3 linked regions of the Homo sapiens genome follow. The protein of the gene in region 1 interacts with the protein of each later gene in a biochemical or structural test. Each region holds a gene or a part of one and is shown on either strand. Other genes may lie near its edges.

Region 1 (5,672 bases):
GGTAACCAATCTGTGAACACATTGGATTGTATCCTTGTTACATTGCCAATTGCTTATTTTTAAAATACTTTTAAAAATGAGTCAATCAGAAATTATGGATTAAATATACAAAAAACTTGTATTATATGTCAGTGCACCCACTTTAAATGTCAAATCTCCATTCATCATCTACATAGGTGGTATTTGGGGTTTGGGTGTGTGAAATACAGATTAAGTTGGTTTTTACCAGTATATAATATTGTCATTTAAAAGGCTTCTTAAAATAACAAAAAGAATGTTCCTTTTTCAAAAGCTTCAAATTCTATTTAGCAAAAATATTTTAGGTAAGAAATTCGGAGAGGCACAAAGTAGTGTGGCGTAATAAAGAATCGTTTTTGTTTTTTTTTTTTTTTTTAAAGCAAAAAAAAAAAAAACCAGGAAACTTTTTAACATACGCTGCCTAAGCTCTCAGTGTGTAAGTGGTTCACACCACTTAATTGAAGCCTGTACCAACTTATGACTGTAGTGTTCACCTTAACTGATCATTCTAGTATTCTGCTTTTTGTCTGTTTGTCATCTTACCCATTTCAGAGCTTTCAAAAATGTGAAAATAAGACACTGCCTACCTAAGAAGTTTGTTAGATTTAGTTTAGAATGAACTAAATTCTAATTAAGTTTATCAGCATATAAAGGGTGTCCAATTTTTTCCCTACATTTTGCATTAAACTTCATTCCACTAGAAAATTTATGTTTGAAATGTTAGTATATAAATGTATCTTTTATATGTTCTAAGCAGTGAAATTTTGAGGTTTTAAAAGTAGTAATTTTTAGTTTTTTGGTGTTGGGACACATAATCAGCTACATAAAAGTAGAATACGCCCGTGATACTTTTTTTTTTTTTTCATTTGGGTATTCAGGCAATGCGTGGTTACCCTTATGTAAGATGGTCACCCAGAGTTCCATCTTAACAAAGGAAATTAGTTTGTGCAGTATTGTTTTGTGCTTTTCTACCCATATGAAGACCCAATAAATAACTTTTGGCCCTTCTTTTGGAATCTTCATTTCCTATCAGATTTGGATTTGGAACCTTTGGATTATTTCATTTCAGAGAGTTTAAACAGTTAAAAGTTAAAATAGCTAGTGCTTATGCCTTTGATATGCGCCAAGCATTGTGTGAAGCACTTTTTGTTCATTTTCAGTGAATCCTCACAACCACCCTGTCAGGGTGGGTACTATTGTTTCTGTTTTAGAGATCAAAAAATTGAGGTCTAGAGTAACTCACAGACATTTATGTACATAGTAGGGTTGGGCTTTGAAGTCATGCAGTGGGACATGAGTCCATATGTGGCTCATGTAAACGTTTATTTTTTTGAGACAGAGTCTCGCTCTGTCGCCCAGGCTGGAGTGCAGTGGTAGTGGCAGTGGCGTTATCTTAGCTCACTGCAACCTCCACCTCCCCAGCTCAAGTGATTCTCCTGCCTCAGCCTCCCGAATAGCTGGGATTGTAGGTGCCCGCCACCACGCCTGGCTAATTTTTGTATATTTAGTAGAGACGGGGTTTCACCATGTAGACCAGGCTGGTCTCAAACTCCTGACCCAAGTGATCCACCCGCATTGGCCTCCCAAACGGTGGGGATTACAGGCATGAGCCACTGCGCCCAGCCTCATGTAAACCTTATGCAATTCTCCAGCACCTTGCTGCAGAGTCATGTATCTTATCTGTATTTGCATCAAAGAGGACTCTTAAGACATGCCTGATTAAATCCTAGTCTCTTGCCCAGAAAAATACCTTCATATTTATCTCAAGTAGTTTGCCTTAAATATATTTTCAAAGTTAGTTGTAGGAAATGAAGTTGTATTTCCTATGCCACCCCTTTAATAAAACAAAAATTTTAAATGTTTAGAATTTAAACTTTAAAAGAACGTTCTAATGTCTTTAGGCTATACTTAAAATGGATTCATGATATTTCTACTTGATTTAATAATCCTTCAATTTTAGTTTGTTACTTTTGTGTAGTATTCATTTCCTTGTACTTTGAACATAGATTATTGATAAAAGGAAGTTAATTCCAGGGTATTGGTAGGCATTAACTTAGAAGTAGGTAAGTTAATTTCTTGAATAAAATATTTTGTCTGGAAATTGACTAGTTCACCTACAAAGCTTATGTTTAATTGAAGGGCTTATTATTTGTGGTTATACCTGCTTTTATTGACTTGATTTGATGGTTCTGTACTTACTTCATATTCTGTTTGACCTTCATTTGTGGGTTTGTCATTTGATCATACTTTCTGGTTGCATGGAATTAATTTTAAGGCCCTCTACTGTGTGGCATATTGGCCATGTTATCTGTTCAGAAAAACTAGTTTTAATCATGAAACTGGAGACCTGAAGAATTATAAGTATGCAGCTGACTTAGTTAACATATGTCAATCAGTTACTGAAAGGGACAGTGTTAGCTTTTTGTTCTTGTATTTTTCTTAAACTGGCATCATCAGATATCTACTTAAAGTCAGATTCCTAAATCAATGGCATGAATTATTTGTAAGATGTTGGAAATTATTAATATTTAACTTTATCTGTTTTTAATTTTCATCCTTAAAGAATAAGGAAGAACTTTATTTTGCTACTTGTAGTTACTCGTGTTTTGATAATCTGTTTTGAAAAGAATTTAAATCAGTCAAGACCAGGGCCTCAAGTTCTTTGATAACATTTGGATTGAATGAGTCTAAGGTTTTTCTTAAATTTTGTAATAAAGGTGCATTTAGTGTTTTTATTAATTGCCAGTAATACACTCACTTTATTAAACTTTGACAGAGTACGTTTATTCTCTAATTCTGTTTATATTCATACTGAAGTATGCCTTTAGACCCCCTTAGTTGAAGTTTCTAAATAACTGCCTTTTTCAGCATCACATTTTGCATCAAATTATTATATAGAATTAAACCCCAAATACAGATAGCGGTGGTCTCAGGGCTGTCACTTACGTATCTTTGTCAGACATAGAACATTATCCTGCATGTTTTGGGTCAGAGAACTAAAAATGTAATTTAATTTAAATGAACAAATAGTTACTGAACATCTGTGTCTAATAGCACTGTGCTTGGTTCTTTGGGTGATGTAAAAGTAAGTTAAGATATGGGCCTTGGGCACTGGCGTGCCTGTAGTCTCAGCTGCTTGGGAGGCTGAGGCAGGAGGATCACTTGAGCCTAGGAATTTGAGGTTACAGTGAGCTATGATTGTGCCACTGCACTCCAGCCTGGGCAATAGAGTAAGACTGTGTCTCTCTAAAAAAATAAAAGATACAGACTTTATAGGAGTAAATACATATAAATAACAACAAAACCTGGAGAGAGTTAAAAATATTCATTTTATAACTAGTAGAATTCTAGAATATGGTAAGCAACTTCATCTTGAGGGAAATAGGACATTGACATAGAGGAAAACAGAATTTAGGAAGAGGCAGGCAAACTTGGTTAAACTGTTAGCATAGGAGTTAATATTCCTTTTGGTTACAGTGGCTGAAATCATTTACATTAAATTGTCATTTTTGAAAGAAGCTTTTTTTTTTTTTTTTTTTGAGATGGAGTTTCTCTCTTGTTGCCCAGGCTGGAGTACAATGATCTGCTCACGCAACCTCCGCCTCCCAGGTTCAAGTGATTCTCCTGCCTCAGCCTCCCTAGTAGCTGGGATTACAGGCATGTGCCACCACACCCGGCTGATTTTGTATTTTTAGTAGAGACAGGGTTTCTCCATGTTAGTCAGGCTGGTCTCGAACTCCCGACCTCAGGTGATCTGCCCGCCTCGGCCTCCCAAAGTGCTGGGGTGATAGGCATGAGCTACTGTGCCTGGCTGAAGGAAGCATTTTTGTGTCAGAATTTGTCCTTGTAAATTACAATATCTGTTATATAAATGATTAAAGAGTTTGAGCCGCTGCATGGACTGAGGTCCTCAGAGATGACCACTTTTTTATTTATTTACTTATTTATTTCTGTGAGAAGGAGTTTCACTCTTGTTGCCCAGGCTGGAGTGCAGTGGCGTGATCTTGGCTCACTGCAACCTCCGTCTTCCGGGTTCAAGCGATTCTCCTGCCTCAGCCTCCCAAGTAGCTGGGGTTACAGGTGCCTGCCACCACACCCAGCTAATTTTTTGTATTTTTAGTAGAGACTGGGTTTCGCCATATTGGGCAGGCTGGTCTCAAACTCCTGACCTCAGGTGATCCGCGCAGCTTGGCCTCCCAAAGTGCTGGGATTACATGGAGATGACCATCTTTAAAGATGGGACTGAAATTACTAGCTTTCTGAGTTGAGGACATGTTCTCCATATCCTGTTGGGTGTTTTCAGCATCCTTTGTAGGCTCATATATTTGTCTCTCCTTGGACCATAAATATTTGGGTAGTAGAAGGTCTGAAGAGGTTGGGAATACTGAAAATGCTGTTGTCTTGAGGAAAAGGTAATAGCAGACGCCGATGTAATTTTGTTTTAAAAATAATTATATGTTTAATTCAGCAGTTGGCAGAAACTTTTGGGAGGCATCTTAAACTGTCCTATTACTCCCAGACCCCTAGTTAAGGAAAATCGTTGGGACCAATACTTCAAATGCATATTTTTCTCATAAGGAAGAACAGTAGGGAGCTAAAGGACTTTAACTATTTGAGATGCTACATACAAGTTCCTATAAGTTTCTGTCATTTTTTTAACATGCATTTTAACCTTACAGGTAGCAATTTCAGGTGTTAGAGCAAGCTAATTTTTATACTTTGAACTATAAAAATACTGATTTTAAGGTTATGGGCAGAGATTTAGGCAATACTACTGAGCACTGTTACATTTGAAGGATAGCAAATTAGATTTTCAGAAATTATGTGTTATGTATTCTTGTCTAAGATGAAGATGGCTTTTAATTTTGTTTATGTATTTACATGGAGTGGTTCATCTTGCATTTTTGTGATTTTTTTTTTTGGTAGCAATACCTTTTATGCTATTTCAGTGTTGATATAACTTTAATGAAAAAATGTGACTGTAAAAAGCAACTTATTGTGAGTTACACAGCATTAAGTGGGAAAACAAAAGCTACCTACAGTCCTAGATTGGTACAGAATATCTTGATAAAAATTTATTTTTCTCATACATAGGACACTATGTTAAAAACATTCTAAACTTAAAACTACTGTTATGTCTGCTAGTGACTTGTCGTTAGGTGCTTTGGTTGGTTTTTCTCCAGTGGAGTGTTTTTTATAATGTTTTTTTTTCTTTATATTTTAGCCAAGAGTCGAAGCTAAACCAGAAGTTCAATCTCAGCCACCTCGTGTGCGTGAACAACGACCTAGAGAACGACCTGGTTTTCCTCCTAGAGGACCAAGACCAGGTGAGTCAGCTCCTTTATAGCCTTTAGCATTTAACATTTGTAAGGCTGTAAAAGACTGAACTTAAACAAAAAACTATGATGCGTTCTATACACAGACCCATATAGTCTCAAATTGCTTAAAGATGTGATGTGAGCAACCTGCTAAATAGTGTCTGGGGCCAAATAACCAATTTTTAGGGAGGATTGGTTGACATGCCATGGTGACATATTTTGAAGGTGTAAAAGACTTAAGTCTTATTTGGTTATTGTCACGGTTTTTTGTTTTTTTTTTTTGTTTGTTTGTTTTTTTTTTGAGACGGAGTCTTGCTCTGTCGCCAGGCTGGAGTA
Region 2 (4,586 bases), on another chromosome or scaffold:
GGGATGCTTCTTCCAGTGGAAAAGGGTACACTGTAGTGGCCCACTGGAGCCCAGAACAGAGACTCCAGATCCGCAGTGGGGGGTGTGTTCCAGGGCCCCACACACAGCAAGTGTTGAGTACACAGTCGAGACTCCCTCAGTGCGTGTTCCGTGAGTGGACCCTGTGATTCAGCCGCGACTGGAACCATGCCAAACAGACATCGAGCTTGGGGACCCTTAGCCAGGTATCCCCAACACCCTGATGCAGCCGTTATGTCAAACAGACAAGAAGTAGATGCCCATTGGTGAAACTTAACAGAAAGCACAGGTAGAGGCTCTTACAGGTCTTCCAAAACTCGAATGGGGGCATGAAACGAAACATTGTTCAGGGTCCCAGGTAAGTGGGTGGTGACAACTTTGTCAATACCCCGGAGGTGGGGGGGCGATGGAAGAATTGAGGGCCACAGAGAAATGTTGGTTATCAAAGAGGCCAACTGATGTGTGGAATATGAAAAGTGGGTTCTTAGCAGGTGAATTAAGATTCAGGGGTTGTCTTTGATGTAGTCCCTTGAGAATCTAACCGTACCTGCCCCAGCTCCCGTAAATTGGGGTCTACTGGGATTAAGAGATAAAGACTGGGGAAGTGAAGTGAAGGGAGGGGAGGAGAACAGCCACCCACTCTGCTCCTGGCTCTGCCCAGAGCTCTCAGAGGTGAGGGGAGTGGCCATGTGGCTCCTCCCTCAGGTTCTGGGTGGAACTTTTAGAGAGGAGAGGGGTGTGGCCATGTGGCTTCTCCCTTGGGCTTAGGGTGGCGCTTTCACAGGTGAGGGTGTGGCTATACAGCTCCTCCCTCGACTCTGGGCAGGGCTTTCAGAGGTGAGGGGTGTGGCCACACAGCTGCTCCTGCATGCTCTGAGCGGAGCTTTCATTGATGGGGATGTGGCCACACGACTCCTCCCTCAGTTCTGGGCCGGGCTTTCAGAGGTGAGGGTGTGGCCACGCAGCTCCTTATTCAGGCTGTGGGCGAGGCTTTCAGAGGTGAGGGGTGTGGCCTTGTGGCTTCTCCCTCGGGCTTAGGGTGGAGCTTTCAGAGGTGAGGGTGTGGCTACACAGCTCCTCCCTTGGCTCTGGGCGGGGCTTTCAGAGGTGAGGGGTGTGGCCACATAGCTCCTCCCTCAGGCTCTGAGAGGAGGTTTTAGAGGTGAGGGGTGTGGCCATGCATCTCCTCCCTCAGCTCTGGGCGGGCCTTTCAGAGATGAGAGTGTGGTCACACAGCCCTTCCCTCAGGCTCTGGGCGGGGCTTTCAGGGCTGAGGGTGTGGCCACACGGCTCCTCACTCAGGCTCTGGGTGGAGCTTCTCAGAGGTGAGGCTGTGGCCACGTGGCTCCTCCCTCACACTCCCTGGTCTGGGCTGTTAGATTAAATTCTGATGCTGTGACCAGGTGGCCAGTTGTAGCGCTGGCTATTTCCTGTGGTGGGAAGGACTGCCCAGGACAGGTTTGAGTTGAGAGAGGATCCTTTGGGAGCTTTAGGCCAAGCTACATGGCCCTGAATCCTAGCAGAACTATTTAAAAAAAAAAAAAAAAAGGGCTGGGTGCAGTGGCTCATGCCTGTAATCCCAGCACTTTGGGAGGCCAAGGCGGGCGGATCACGAGGTCAAGAGGTCCAGACCATCCTGACCAACATGGTGAAATCCCGTCTCTACTAAAAATACAAAAATGAGCGGGGTGTGGTGGCACGCACCTGTAGTCCCAGCTACTCGGGAGGCTGAGGCACGAGAATGACTTGAACCCGGGAGGTGGAGGTTGCAGTGAGCCGAGATGGTGCCACTGCACTCCAGCCTGGCAGCAGAGTGAGACTCCGTCTCAAAAAAAAAAAAAAAAAAAAAAAAACACACACACAACAAAAGAAAGTAATGGTAGCTGCCAGTTGCCGAGCACTTCCCGGGTGTCAGGCATGGACTCTCACCATCTCCTCATAGACTCTGCTGTGGGGGGGCATGTTGTCAAGGTTGCCTGAAAGATGGGGCTCTGGGAAGTCGGTTGCTGCCAGACCTCTGCCTAAGTCATTAGGGCATGTTGAGCTGGGACTCCAGCCCCGTCCTTCCAGCTCCACTGTGTTGCCTCTCCAGGGGGCCTGAGCCAGGGGCACCCATGGGCGGAGGCCTTGCTGGCCTCCTGGGTCCCTGAGGACCTCTCCCGGGACCTTTTTGTTGCTTTGGGTTTGATAACGAAGAACTGTGGGTGACCCTGTCTTTTTTGCAGGTTTGTGCCTCATCTGTGCAATGGGTGTCGAGCCTATAGGACCAAGAGTCAAGTAAGTGTCCCTAAGATGAGGTGGCACCCTGGGTGTGCCCCGGATCAGAGTAAGAATGTTTCAGGGGACCCTGCAGATCCTATTTCTCATCCTCTGCATCCTGCAGGTGAGAAACCTGCGAGCCACAGGAAGAGAGTCTCTGTCTACCCAGTATGAGGGCATCTGAGCCAGGATAGGAGCCCGGGCCAGTAACACCGGGTCCTCCAAGGGCCTTCCCTTCCACTCTGAGGGTCTGTGGTTGGGATTTCATGTAGATTCCAGCCTCTGGAAGCACCCAGTGGTGCATCTGTACCCTCCTTTGTTACCTGGCTCGGACCCAGGGCAGGATCAGGGTGCAGGCTGGGTTAGAAAGGCCCCATGGCCGGCCAGACACCATCATCACAGCAGTGGGTCGCTGTTCCCAGGCTCCTCTGCTAGGCACTGAGCTAGGTCCTTTTACATGTTCACCTCCCCACCATACCCACATGTCTTCATCCTACAGCTGAGGAGGCGGGCCCGGATGCTAGTGAGGACAGAGCTAGGATGCAACCCAGGCCCCTGGCTCCCAGGCCCCATGCTAACCCACCTGCCTGGCATACAATGCTGTTGAGACCAGATAATTTGGATCTTTCCTTCATTTGACAAATATTTATCCCCGAGCGGACCTGTGGATCAGACACGACTGAGCCTCTGTACTTTGCCACTGAGCAGCTGAGTCTGACCCACGGAAGAGGACGATGTACACGTGAATGATGTGCGCTTCCTCAGCCGCCCCTGGGTAGTCTGGGGTTCTGGGTGACTCCCTCCCATCCCATAGATGGGGAAACTGAGGCTGAGGCAGGTAAAGAGATGATGTATTAGTTTTATGGGGTTATTGTAACAAATTACCATAAATTGGGGCATGGTGGGGAGGCTTAAAGCAACAGAAATGAATTTTTTCCCCAGTTCTGGAGCCAGGAGTGTGAAATCAAGGTGTTGGCAGGGCTGGACTCTCTGAAGGCGCCTCAGCTTCTGGTGGCCCCAGGTGCTCCTTGGCCTGTGGCTACATCACTCCAGTCTCTGCCTTTATCATTATTTAGCTTTCTCCCTGTGTCTCTGCGTCTCAGAAATCCCTCTGCTTTTATTTATTTTAGTTTTTGAGACAGAGTCTTGCTCTGTTGCTCCGGCTGGAGTGCAGTGGCGTAATTGTGGCTCACTACAGCCTCAACCCCCTGGGCTCAAGCAATCCTCCTGCCTCAGCCTCCTGAGTAGCTGGGACCACAGACGCCCACCATCACACCTGGCTGCCTTTCTTTTATAAGGATACCTACCATCAGATTAGGGTCCACCCTAAATCTAGGTTGTATCTTCTCTCAAGATCTTTTCCTTAATTACATCTGCAAAACCCAGTTTCCAGATAAGCTGGCAAGCACAGGTTCCAGGTAGACATGAATTTTGGGGGCCACCCTTCACCCCATCCCAGATAATGTTAAATGGCAGCAATCGTGAATTTGGGTGCCAGCTGTAGGTCTGTTCCCCTATACCCCCGGCCCTCTAGCCCCATTGAGCCCAAGCTTGGTTTTTGCAAAGGAGCAGGCCTGGCCCGGTTTCTTCTGGATTTGAGAGCAGTGTTTCTGGATGTTTCTAAACCTGCCTTGGGTATTGAACCAGCCTCCCAATGTCTGGTAACCCCCTAAGCCGCTCATTCCCTGGGATGCTTTTCGGAGTCTTCATGCTTTTTGTTTTGTTCCTTGATCTGAGCTCACAACAGTTTTTACTGATGAGCTTTCAAGATATTTTTATCGTTAAAACTGCTTTGGGTCCTTCTAATACATCAGCGCTGCTCCAGGAGTGCCACAGCCCACAGGCACATTAGCCTCACAGTCCCCGCACAGATGAATGGATGTTTATGGCGCTGAACAGCCGTGCTGAGATGCTGCTCGGTTAGAAATGTTCCTTCCATGACAACCCGGCCTTCTGGTCTTTGTTAATGGGGCCACAAATATCTCTGGTGGCCCTGCCATTTTGTGGGAATCTTGTTATCGCTCTGACCTCCTTGTCTACCCCATCTCTGGTTACATGACGAAGCTCACAAATGTGGCCTCGGTGGCTGCCAGTCCCAGCCACCTCTGCCTCCTGCGTCCTCGTCCCCTACCCCTCTGAGATCGTGTGTGACTTAGAGCTTGCGTCTTCTCCTTCATTTTCATGGGATTTCATCAGAGGCTGAGGAACAGAAAGGGAGGGTGGGGGGACTTTTCAAAGTAGTGTCTCCCTTCTCTCCATGTCTTTTTCTCTTTTTGAGATGGAGTCTTGCTCTGTCCTCCAGGCTGGAG
Region 3 (4,586 bases), on another chromosome or scaffold:
CATACTGCTTGTTACAGCATGCAGGTATTTTGTGAATTTGCATACCAAATACTCCAAGGGAACCCAGACTATGTCTTCATTGTTGACTTAGCTTCCAGAATAGTGCCTGGCATCAAGTAGTAGGGGGTTCGTAGATATTTATATAAATAATAAAATACAAAAATATGGATTCTTCCAGAATAAAGCATATTAACCCTGGAAACATGAATTTTGTGATTCTATTTTTTATTTGTCAAGCATTTAGTATTTTTACAATATCATGGTATGATATTGAGGAGGTAAAATTAAAATATCCTGAGATGTATTCTCTCTTTTATCAGTGTAGGTGATAATGTACTTAAAGGTAAGTAATTTGTAATGCATTCTTAGAAAGGCAGTGACCACAAATGTATTAAAATATATTTTAAGAAAAAATTGGATTGCATAAACTAATATGGTTATAAGTGACTCCAAATCTAAAATGATAACCTTGTTAGGTTTAAATCTGTATCATCTAACAGAAATTTGAGGGCCAGTCAATAGTCACTGACTATGAATTTAAAATATTCTTTTAAAATAAACATAGATGCTTATGTGAGCTCAGTTGATAGAAATGTAGTCAGATGAGGCGGAGGCCATAAGTTAGGTTTCCACACGGTCTAAATTGATGTTTGCCCCAGGTACAAAGGGCACATTATCCAAATATTTGAAGCATTCTCTAAGGAAGGTTCAGAGAGGCAATGTGGGCTTATCCATGAAGACCCATCACTGTTATTAGAGTGGAAGTAAGGACTGCAAACTTCATGCTCATAAATGATTGTGTCATTTTCATACTAGAATTTTACCACACACACACTCACACTCACACACACACACACACACACTTTGTATGGTGATTTGCCTCCCCCCTTTATTTTTGCAGACTATGCTTAAAGATATTAAACAAACAACTAGTTTTGCTATTAACATTTGGTTGAAAATTTAGCTTTCAATTAGGTGACAAACTGATTAATGATTTTTTTATGTAGCAAATGGCCAGCCACAGATTTTTGGTAAATAATTTGGTTACCACATTACATCTTGAAGGACTAAATTATTTCACTAATTGTGAGCAGGGATTTTTAAAAATTTGCTCTGAAGAGGACATATTGTGGATGTTGTATTGGAGGGCATCTGTGTACTAATTGAAGATGGTCCTTCATATTACACATCACAAATTAGCTAATTTATTCTTTACAGAAGTATTATGACATCTTCCTTTAGAACTGTGTAGAGTTAGATTACCACTTGAGAGGCAAGGTCATATTAAAATAGATATTATAAAATTGTATAAAAATATTTTATATGAGGATTTATGAGAGCATCCAGAGAATGTGGGTAGAATACTTTTGTGGAATATGAGATAACAATTTTGGTGTCCTGCCATTCTAAAAAATGAAATTTCTTCATTGAAGGTATCACTTACCCTTTCCTCTGCCTTGCTGGAAGGAAATGGCTTTAGGCAAAAGAAAAAGCCATCAGCTCTTGGCAGCTAAAGGTGGAATGAAGTTTGGAGGAATGAAACCCTTCTGGGTGGTGAGGAAAAATGCCAGGCCATGATAAAGTGGGGAAGGAAGAGGGGAATGCCTTGAACAGTGCCAGTAAGCATAATCTGCCACAGACAAGTTTGAATTGACATATGTAGAACTGAATTATTCTATATCTTTTTAGTTCTATAGAGAAAACCGTTCTTTCCACGTCTCTTTTTAAAATAACAACTTACTGTAAGCAAAAAATATGTTGTTGTTGTTTCTTTAACACAGGAGATGAACTATCTTTAGATTTTTTAAAGTGATATAACATGGAGCCAAAAATGCCATATATTACTGTTGAAACCTAACGTTACTTTAACTGTAATTTCCTTGCTATTCATTTTATGATTTCCTCTTGTTATGTCAAGTGTTAGAGAGACTGCTATTACTGATCATAAATTTCTTTAAAATGTCTCCTTGGATTTTTTACAAAGCTTTCTGAATCATTTATCAAAATACAATAAAGCTCTAATTGCACCTAGGATTGTTCACTTGGAAATTTAGAAAGAGTGTGTACATTTACAATTAAGTTAGCATCCTGCCCTGCAATGAATGCCCTTTTTCTTTTTTTTTTTCCTTCTTCTCTCCTACATCTCATCTTCCAAATGTTTGATATGTACGCCAGTAAGGCAAATTTTACTCCACTTTTAGGTCAAACTATTAGTACAAATAATTGGAAAATTGAGCCTCTAAAGAAAGATAAATAAGATTAGAAGCATGCATTAAAATATAAGTATTAAAAACATTCCCATAAGATTTTTAATAAAAATTTTATGTGCTATATGCACACCTAGACTCCCTGTATTATCTGATTTTTAAAGATTCTTTTTTTTTTTTATTTTTTATTTTTTTGAGACGGAGTCTCGCTCTGTCGCCCAGGCTGGAGTGCAGTGGCGCGATCTTGGCTCACTGCAAGCTCCGCGTCCTGGGTTCACACCATTCTCCTGCCTCAGCCTCCGAGTAGCTGGGACTACAGGCGCCTACCACCGTGCCCGGCTAATGTTTTTGTATTTTTAGTAGAGACGGAGTTTCACCATGTTAGCCAGGATGGTCTCAATCTCCTGACCTAGTGATCCGCCCGCCTCGACCTCCCAAAGTGCTGGGATTACAAGCATGAGCCACCGCGCTCAGCCCATTATCTAATGATGATGATGATGATTATTATTATTATTATTATTATTATTATTATTATTATTATTATTTTAACTGGGGGTAATTTCACTGGATGTGGTATCTGTCAACTTTTACTAGTTGCTCCTACACTATATGTTTTTAAATCCAATGTAATTATTTTAAAAATATGTCATCTTCTTGAGAGTCTATACTTTAGAATTTGAAAAAAGAAGTAAATGTAGATATTCAAATCCATGCAGATGAGTAAAACAGGGAAAAATGAGAAAAATGTTTCATGATAATAAAATATTATGTCAGGCACAGCTGGTCACCCCTGCAATCCCATCACTTTGGGAGGCCGAGGCTGGAGGATTGCTTGATCCAGGAGTTCTAGATCAGCCTGGGCAATAAAAGGAAAATCTGTTTCTACAAAAAAATTAAAATTTATATTTCATATATTGATTTAAGCTCTACTAAATGACTATTCTTTCAAGTCTAATAGACAGTGTATCTTTTAGGGCTCAGAGTAAAGATAATTTATTGAGGACATTTTGAATAGGATGAATTAAATGCTTTATTGGTAAGTGATGCCTTTATCTGAGTGATTCCTTCTAGGTAAATATTATGGGACCAATCTTTGTAAATGATCTTTGCATGGAACAAAATATTATAAAGTTGAAGTGATGAATTTGTTTCCCTCTTAACAAAATATGTATTCTTGTTACCCCATTTACAAACTTGGCTCATGGTAATTCAGGTAGGAAAAAGGGAAGTGGCCTACTCAGGGATCAACTGGGAATAAGGTTCTTATAATCCCATGAGATCAGCTGACAGACTTTTAGGAATGAACACTTGTAGAACAGCTAGGCAGAGAAGTGCCTTTCAAAATTTATATTACATCTCTACTATATTTCAGACTGTAAAATATTTTTATAAAGTGTTAAAAGCACAGATAAATAAATTTGAGTTCAAATTAGTATAGTGAAAGGAAGTTTATTTTTCCCAAATATTTCCTTTACTCAGTATGTGGTCTTAGTCAAATATTAATTTCTTAAATATTGCTTTCCTGTAAATTAGTAGTATTTACTTCTAAGGACTATATTATATGTTATATATAGAGTATATTATATATTAGGAGATATATATGTATATACATCGTAATTTGTTTTTTCCAAAACAGCCACTTTAGTGTCTTACACATGATAAGTAGATATGAGTAGATGTTCAATAATGGTATCTAGGCATTTAATAACTTAGAATATTATAATCAAAATGCATTCTTTTTTTTTTTTTTGAGACCGAGTTTCACTCTTGTTGCCCAGGCTGGAGTGCAATGGTACGATCTTGGCTCACTGCAACTTCCGCCTCCCAGGTTCAAGCAATTCTCCTGCCTCAGCCTCCCGAGTAGCCGGGATTACAGGCATGAGCCACCTCGCCTGGCTAATTTTGTATTTTTAGTAGAGATAGGATTTCACCAGGTTGGGCAGGCTGGTCTTGAACTCCTGAGTTCAGGTGATCTGCCCGCCTAGGCCCCCCAAAGTGCTGGGATTATAGGCGTGAGCCACCATGCCCAGCCTCTTTTTTTTTTTTTTTTTAATTAAGTTTCAAGGTACATTTGCAGGATGTGCAGGTTTTTTACATAGGTAAAGGTGTGCCGGTTTCACTCTGTTGCCCAGGCTGGAGTGCAGTGGTACGATGTTGGCTCGCTGCAACCTCTGCCTCCCAGATTCAAGTGATTCTCCTGCCTCAGCCTCCCAAGTAGCTGGGATTACAGGCATGTACCACCATGCCCGGCTAATTTTGCAGTTTTAGTAGAGATGGGGTTTCACCATGTTGGCCAGACTAGTCTCGAATTCCTGACCTCAGGTGATCTGCCCACCTCGGCCTTCTAAAGTGTTGGGATTACAGGTGTAAGCCACTGTG

What was found.
Region 2: the proteins of G3BP2 (region 1) and SLC38A8 interact in a surface display test, tested with the Homo sapiens proteins (one large-scale study listed by IntAct).
Region 3: the proteins of G3BP2 (region 1) and SCN9A interact in a surface display test, tested with the Homo sapiens proteins (one large-scale study listed by IntAct).

Annotation. Positions count from the first base shown.
Region 1 is NC_000004.12:75,648,312-75,653,983, reverse strand, and holds part of G3BP2 (ras GTPase-activating protein-binding protein 2), read left to right. Parts: coding exon 1-1; intron 2-5,242; coding exon 5,243-5,345; intron 5,346-5,672.
Region 2 is NC_000016.10:84,010,710-84,015,295, reverse strand, and holds part of SLC38A8 (solute carrier family 38 member 8), read left to right. Parts: intron 1-2,243; coding exon 2,244-2,295; intron 2,296-4,586. UniProt on the Homo sapiens protein: Electrogenic sodium-dependent amino acid transporter with a preference for L-glutamine, L-alanine, L-histidine, L-aspartate and L-arginine. May facilitate glutamine uptake in both excitatory and inhibitory neurons.
Region 3 is NC_000002.12:166,368,359-166,372,944, reverse strand, and holds part of SCN9A (sodium channel protein type 9 subunit alpha), read left to right. Parts: intron 1-4,586. UniProt on the Homo sapiens protein: Pore-forming subunit of Nav1.7, a voltage-gated sodium (Nav) channel that directly mediates the depolarizing phase of action potentials in excitable membranes.